Homo sapiens: one gene and its partner. The protein of the gene in region 1 interacts with the protein of each later gene in a pairwise test. Each region holds a gene or a part of one and is shown on either strand. Other genes may lie near its edges.

Evidence for each region. Proteins that work in one complex are often made in the same cells at the same time.
Region 2: the proteins of HTR2B (region 1) and INSIG1 interact in a two-hybrid assay, tested with the Homo sapiens proteins (one large-scale study listed by BioGRID and IntAct).

Annotation. Positions count from the first base shown.
Region 1 is NC_000002.12:231,114,934-231,118,589, reverse strand, and holds part of HTR2B (5-hydroxytryptamine receptor 2B), read left to right. Parts: intron 1-3,656. UniProt on the Homo sapiens protein: G-protein coupled receptor for 5-hydroxytryptamine (serotonin). Also functions as a receptor for various ergot alkaloid derivatives and psychoactive substances.
Region 2 is NC_000007.14:155,300,722-155,304,377, reverse strand, and holds part of INSIG1 (insulin-induced gene 1 protein), read right to left. Parts: intron 2,813-3,656; coding exon 2,688-2,812; coding exon of another isoform or gene 2,658-2,687; intron 2,128-2,657; coding exon 1,961-2,127; intron 1,632-1,960; coding exon 1,532-1,631; intron 554-1,531; coding exon of another isoform or gene 483-553; intron 1-482. UniProt on the Homo sapiens protein: Oxysterol-binding protein that mediates feedback control of cholesterol synthesis by controlling both endoplasmic reticulum to Golgi transport of SCAP and degradation of HMGCR.

The sequences.
Region 1 (3,656 bases):
CAAAAAAATACCCAAACCAACAAAAAACCCAGGCATGCAATGCATACAGGTTATTTTCCTGTACCGTATATAAAATAAACAGCAGTTAAAATTCAACGTTAGTAAAAAACATACTTTTATGACAAATTCAATTGAAAGTTAAACAGAGTTAACTGTTCTCAGCCCATCCTCCCTCACCCCCGGAAAGTACAGCTTAAAGTTTTAAGCTGAATCAGATGCATGCACTTTTGCTACAGCAGGTAGAAAGACAAACACTCTTATTTCATACTGATGATTTGGCTTGTTTCTATGTAGGAGTGTTTTCATGGTTGAGTTAGTTGGCTAGTTTCTGTTAAACAATAGTAATAAGCACTAACATTTATTGAGTGTTTTCTTTATGCCAGGAACTGTTCTAAACACTTCACATGTATTTAATCATCATCCATATAAACTCTATTAAAGAAATCCTATAAAACAGGTACTATTATCCCCACTTTACAGAGGACAGAGAAGCAGAGGGATAAGTAATCTGTTCAAGATTACAAAGTAAGTGGCAGAGACATGATTTAAACCCAGGAGGACTGATTCTAGAATTCACACTCTTAACCTTTATTATTCCGCTTTCTCAAATGTCAATGAGAAATCTGACCAGCCAAAACTGTCATATTTGGCATACAGAACCAACATTTATACCTTAAATAACCCCATGTAACTGTTCAGAGGATCACAGAATTTTTTCCCCCCTAGGGACAAGTTAGAACTCAGTATTCTTTTCAGTTAAAGTTATATTTCATATTAAGTGGAAAAGAATACTTGTGCGTCAACCTATACTTGTACAAATCCTTCAGATGACTGCAAGATCTCTTTTCTGTGGAAGGTATTAGACCTAGGCCCATACCTATGAAGTTGTTGAACCTTGTCTGGGAGACAAATAAAAATTTATATAACTGAATGACAACTCCTACCATCCCTCATGCATGGCAGAATTTAAAGCAGTCTTCATTTTAAACAATAAAATATTTGTGCTACTGATATTCTTTAGATAATTAAACAATTGTCTATAAGACAAGACCCATCTAGGACTTGTTTTGTTGCTTTAATATTCAGTCTGTAATTATTTCAGGCATTGACAGAAATGCTATTATTCTTTCTTAATTTTAATGAAAGAGTCTAATTTAGAGCCCCAGAATAACAGTAATTTAGTTGAAGAACCTAGTAACTTGTTTCCCTCAGACTGACCCTTAGATACACATTTCTTTCTTTCCATTTAAGTATGTAACTGTTTCACTTCATTATTTCAAATTTTCAATGTCTTAAGTCTTTGTGGAAGTATATTGGACAGAATACATTATAACAAATAATGTAATTAGAAATTCTTAAAACCAAAACTCCTAAAATAAACGTTTTGAAATAAAGTATTTCACCATACCAACTTAACCTTTAATTTAGTTATTCTAAACAGAAATAAACTTTTCTGACTTTGAGCTAAATTAATACTAACTAAAAAATGATTTTAGAATGAAAGTCTCTAGACTAGGAAAAGCCCCTTTATAAAACAAGTGTGTCTAGAACTGTTTTTAATTTCTATAAATTCTTAGATTACCCAAATATATTAGGCATTTAAAAAAGCCTCTTTTTCTTTTTTGTGTTGTATATAAGGTTTCTATTAATTTAATGCAGTTATCTTTTTCTTTTATATTAGTTTCATTAAAACTATCCACCAGTGTTTCACGAAACTTGAAATGAGAAAGGCTTGGAATTGTAAAGATTCATCTCTCTTATAAATTTCAGTCTCATTCTTTCTTAAAGAAAATTCTGTATCACATCTCAATATTTCTGTTAACAATAAAGCACTAACTGTAATAAGAAAATTCTAGTGAATTTTAAGTGGGAATGAGTTTATAAATTCTGTTTAAAGTGAGGCTAACAGGGCTTCATAGGGTTACTTAAATCAGCACTAAAAAACTTTCCTTCTTAGCCCACAATTAGGAGTATGTGGATCAGATGGTCAAATTCCAAAGACACGTACTTTTTATATGAATTTTCTTATGGCTTCCTGCTTATGGCAACTAGATTTATGACTAGAATTTTCCAAACCTTAATCTTCAGAAGTATAATCCATAACTAGAATAGCTAAATAGACAGGTTTAAATAGTTGGCAAACTATTTTAAAAGATGTTACAGAGAGAGTAAGGACTTCAAGGAAGGAAATCTAAGATATAACACAATAATTACCTGCCTTTTAAATCCTTAACTGCAATCAATATCTCTGATTATAGCTCTAGACGAGTATTTTCCTACCACCCTACTTACAGTCCTAAATCTAGAACTTCAGCTCAAGATGTACCCTCATTTTTAGTAGTTTCCACTGCAAACTCTAAAATGATTCTTTTCACTATACTTAGACTGTTAGTTCGCTTTGAAGCTGCCTGTGTCCAAGGTCCTTTTCCACTAAATGACAAAAAATCTGAATGCTATGGCTAAGAGTGAGAAAATCCAATTGATTAGATTTTCTCCAAACACCAGTTTCTCTGACTTAATTTATTCTGAGAGGCCTCCCATTAGTTCCTTTCCATGAGACATTCCAAGTGCCTATAACCAACCCTACAACAGGAAACTTAGGTGCATCTTTTAAGACTCAGACACAAACCTTACCAGAAAGTCTTCCAAAGCACTGCTTCTCAAATGTTAATTTGCATACGAATCACCTGGAAACCTTATTTAACTGCAGAGTCTGATACAGTAGGTCTGAGATGAGACCCAAGAGCCTGCATATCTAAGTACCCAGGTGATGCCGATCCTCACTCTCCATCTTAAGAGCAAACTCTGAGTGGCAGTTCTAAATAACACTTTCAGATAACATTTACATTTCAATAAATAAATGCCTCCCCTCCTTACCTCTATATTCAGACTTAATTATACCTGAATTTACTCATCTGCAAGATCAATGGTAATCTCTAAGGTTCCTTCCAGCTCAATAAATCTAAAATTTACCACCTCTATCCCTTCCTACCCCCAATTCAACAAGCAGGCAAAGTTTATTTACAGTAATACACTGAAAAGTATGAATGACCCTTTCCACTTGATGCTTTAATCCCTTTTTAAGAAGCTGCTGAACATAGAACTAAGTCCCAATCATTTATTCTTTCTGAGTAAAAGTTTGTGCTGATTTTGTTATTTTGTTCCTAGGAAGAAATATTTTAATATTCTTATTCAGAATGCCACATACCAACTCTGGAAACAGAAGGCACCAAAAAGTAGATGTGTCAGCCTTGCTACCTTCTGGATACTTTGTCAAGTGCCCAGATATTTTTCACTGAAATCCTACCTGACTTTAAAAAAATCTCCTACTTGATGCTTGAAAATAACAGCCAAATCTATCTAAAAACTCTGCCCCTAAATTATGCTTTTTTTTTTTTTGGTCTGAGATTTTAATCTCTCTCCACCCCCAGGCTCCTTAAATTTTAAACAGTTAACAATAGAAGAGTCTCTTGTTGTTCTGTAATCCTGAGATGATTATTCTGGTTTTCCTTCAATTATGACAATCACTTTATACCTGTCAAAGTCAGATATACCTGCAATAGCCAGAAGAAAAGTAGATTACATTTTATCAGTGGACATATAACAATCAAATCCTAAAAGAGACTTAGATAATCTCACATGCATGACATCTGTTC
Region 2 (3,656 bases), on another chromosome or scaffold:
AATGATGGAGTTGCCAGCTCTCCTTTGAAGACTATTAACGGGGATGATGGCGAATGCATGAAAACAACATACTATTTCCATGTGGGACCATCCGACCAGATTTTTAATATTAAAAAAAGCAAGGCCAGGCTCACGCCTATAATCCCAGTGCTTTGGGAGGCCAAGGTGGGAGGATGGCTTGAGCCCACGAGTTCGAGCCCGGCCTGGACAAGGCAGGGAGATAACATCTCCACAAAAAGCAAAAAAGTTAGCCGGGTATGGTGGCATGTGCCTGTAATCCCAGCTACTCGGGACGCTGAAGCGGGAGGATTGCTTGAGTCCGGGAGCTCAAGGTTACAGTGAGCTATGATGGCACCACTGCACTCCAGAGCTCTGTCTCAAAAAAAAAAAAAAAAAAAAAAGGCAAGCAAAGTCCTTTCTTCTCCATCATGAGAAATTTGGCAGCAGAGAGTCAGTAACCAGTGGAAGACTGCAAATTCTACCTGTAATTACTTCTGGTTTTGTGAAACAGCCAAGTGGTCTTCAAATTCAACTCCTCACAGAAGGGTATCAGCTGGCAAAAATAAATGTACTGTTTTAAAAATAGCATGAGGTACTAAGATAAGTTTTCCCAGAGCTTATCTCCGAGAGCAACAGCTCTAGGTTTTTGTTGTTTTTTTTAATTTACTTTCTTTCAGCCTGCCAAAGTCAACTCAAAATAACATTTAAAAGTCCACCTCTATGTTTTTAAATTGAAGTGCTAAGATGTCAATTTTTAACTAATGAGAACTGCTAAAGCCATCCTGGAGTTCACTACCTTTCCGTCTCCCTCAGGGGGGCTGTGAGAGAAGCTCTGCGGGGTAGCACTGCTTTCTCCTGCAGCTGAGAACAGATGCAATGTTCAGGCAGGACAGTCCGTCTACATGGTGACCCGGCCACGTGCAGCGGTGCTCTCATCACCACTTCTCCATGCCCAGGGCCACCTGCCCCACAGAAAGGTGCTGCCTGCCTGAACCAGGCTGTCCCCTTGCCCACCCACATTAGTCCCTGCCCTGGCCCGAGACAGACTCTGCAGCCTCAGGCTCGATTTGCTTGACTGTGGACTAAGAGGCCAGCATCATCTGCATCCACTCTGATTTTGTGAAAAGAAACACTGGTGGACTGATGCTCAGGGAGCAAAGTATCACTGCATGAGGTCATCCAGATCTGCTTCCGATGGTGAAGGAGGAGGGGACACTCACACACCAGTCACTTTCTCTACTGCTTACTACAGAAATTTCAAGAATTCAGAACACTGACCACATCTGCAATTCAAAGGGGCAGTGCGAGGGCTCTAGTTCCTTTTCTAGATCAAATATTATGAATTTTTATAATTTAGCAAAGAATTACCTGGGTATCATTACCTATTTTTTTAAATATAAGCTTTTCTCAGTAGTTGTCACTCAAGTCTGAACCAGAATATATGAACGCAAATTTGAATGTATCATGTAAAGTCATTCTATCAAGGTAAAGAGACGCAAGTTTTAGAAGATAATATGATCATTTCACTTACCATAGCTAACTGTCGTCCTATGTTCCCCACCGTGACGCCTCCTGAGAAAAATATACAAGGGAGCCAAGAACGAATATAGAGGAAATCTGGGGATGTATACCTGGAGCGAGAAAAGAAACTGTACCTTAGCAGTCAATTTCACCTGGCTCAATTCTACATCACAGATTCTCTGTAGTGGGGATATGCAGAACGCATATCAACCATCCAATGTTACGAATGTTCATATTTGTTTGGTTGTAACTGCTACTACTTGGTTTTCCTTTGCGTTACATTAAGTTATGGATAGCAGCATTTTTGAGAATTTCATGCCTAAATCTGTATCATTCTATATAAAAAACAAATAAAATATGAAAATATCTAAGCTTAGTGGATGTTTTAATGAAAGTTAAGTAAGCTTTCCAAAGCCAATATTTGAAAACACACACTTACTGATAGACACCATTATACACGAGAAACTGCGTGATCAGCGTAGCTAGAAAAGCTATGGTGATCCCCAGCCCAAGGCCACTTCTGGAACGATCAAATGTCCACCAAAGGCCCAAAGATAGGGCTGCTAAAGTCAAGGACAGCTGGACATTATTGGCAAAATCCAATTTCTGGTGATATAAAAGTTAAGGAAAAGTTTGCTGACTCTTATTAAGATAAAAAAACGTAAAACCACAAGGGTTAAAAACATGGGTATTTTATTATTGTACCACAGATAATTCACTGTCCATAAAAACTGTGTAATAAGCTAAAGAAAGGATTTGTTGGATACAGGTTACAGTAATCATTAAGATCACCTGAAATCTCCCTGCCATCACTGAGTCAAAAACTTAACCATAAGAATAAACTTGCTGAAAGCTATATATAAAGTGCTTATATATATTTATATAAATATATATTTATTATATATATTATATATATTTAAAAATATATATAATATATATAAAAATATAAATAAATATATATTTATTTTGACCATAAAACAATATATTTTACTATGAAGTCATCGATAGCCCCATTCTTCTTTCTCTTTTTAGTAATCTGAAATGGGTAGGTACCACCATCATGTCTGTATTATGACATGGAGTCATTTGAGTATATAACAAAACAAAACGCTTCAATATATAACCTAAGAAGATACTCTGGACGTAGCACAGAAAATTAAGGATACAGCACTGGCGTGGTTAATGCCAACAAAAACTGCTATGCAGCGCATGACACTGGCCCATTCTCTCTTAAATTTGTGGGGTTCTCCGAGGTGACTGTCGATACAGGGGTACAGTAGGCCAACAACAGCTGTTTTAAAAAAGTTGACAATGTTAGAATACAGCAGATTCAAGTTCCAGAATTTCAACGTGGTCATTAGTAACACAGTACATTACTCAAACCAGTCCTTTTCCTAGAAAAAATTATCAGCTATAACTTCAGAGTGATTTTATATTCTTGTTCTCTTTGAGTACCACTCCCACAAAATTGTACTGTTTGGAAAAGTTTTTTAAAAATCACTATTATTTAGTGTAGTTGAACATGTCTCAGTAAACACAGGAAGGAATCAAGCAGGGATTATTCATATTAATATGAGCAATATGTAACCTTATATTTAATATCCACATTTGCCTAAAGCACACAGAACTTAAATGACTATGTAGTTCACCTTGTCTTTTCATCCGGTGTGATTTCTATCTTACAATAAAAAGGTTAGCATCTGTCCACACCCTGTCACATCACAGCTCTGACACTCCTGCCACCACCCAGTACTGGGGCTGGGCACGTGATGAGATACATATTTGCTGATGTGACTTTGACAGTCTGGGTCACATGCTCCTAGAGTGGCCCTGGAGTTGATTTTCGGGGGTTCTAGCATGTTCTGTACGAGGCACTGAGCACCTACTGTGCACACATGCACATGGGCAAGTACGGGGCGAGACAGCCCCACACAGGCTTCGCTTATTCTCCATCTGGTTCCCGCATGGTCAAGCCTCAAGCTGCGGAAAGAACACCAGACCAAGAAGAGAAAACTCAGCCTCAAATCCCAGCTTGCCCTCTGATGGGACGTGGCTCTGCATGTTTGTTTTCTCATGTGTAAAATTATAAGGATTATGTAACTGGGACACAGAGAAAGAGATCACTGTGGTCTGGA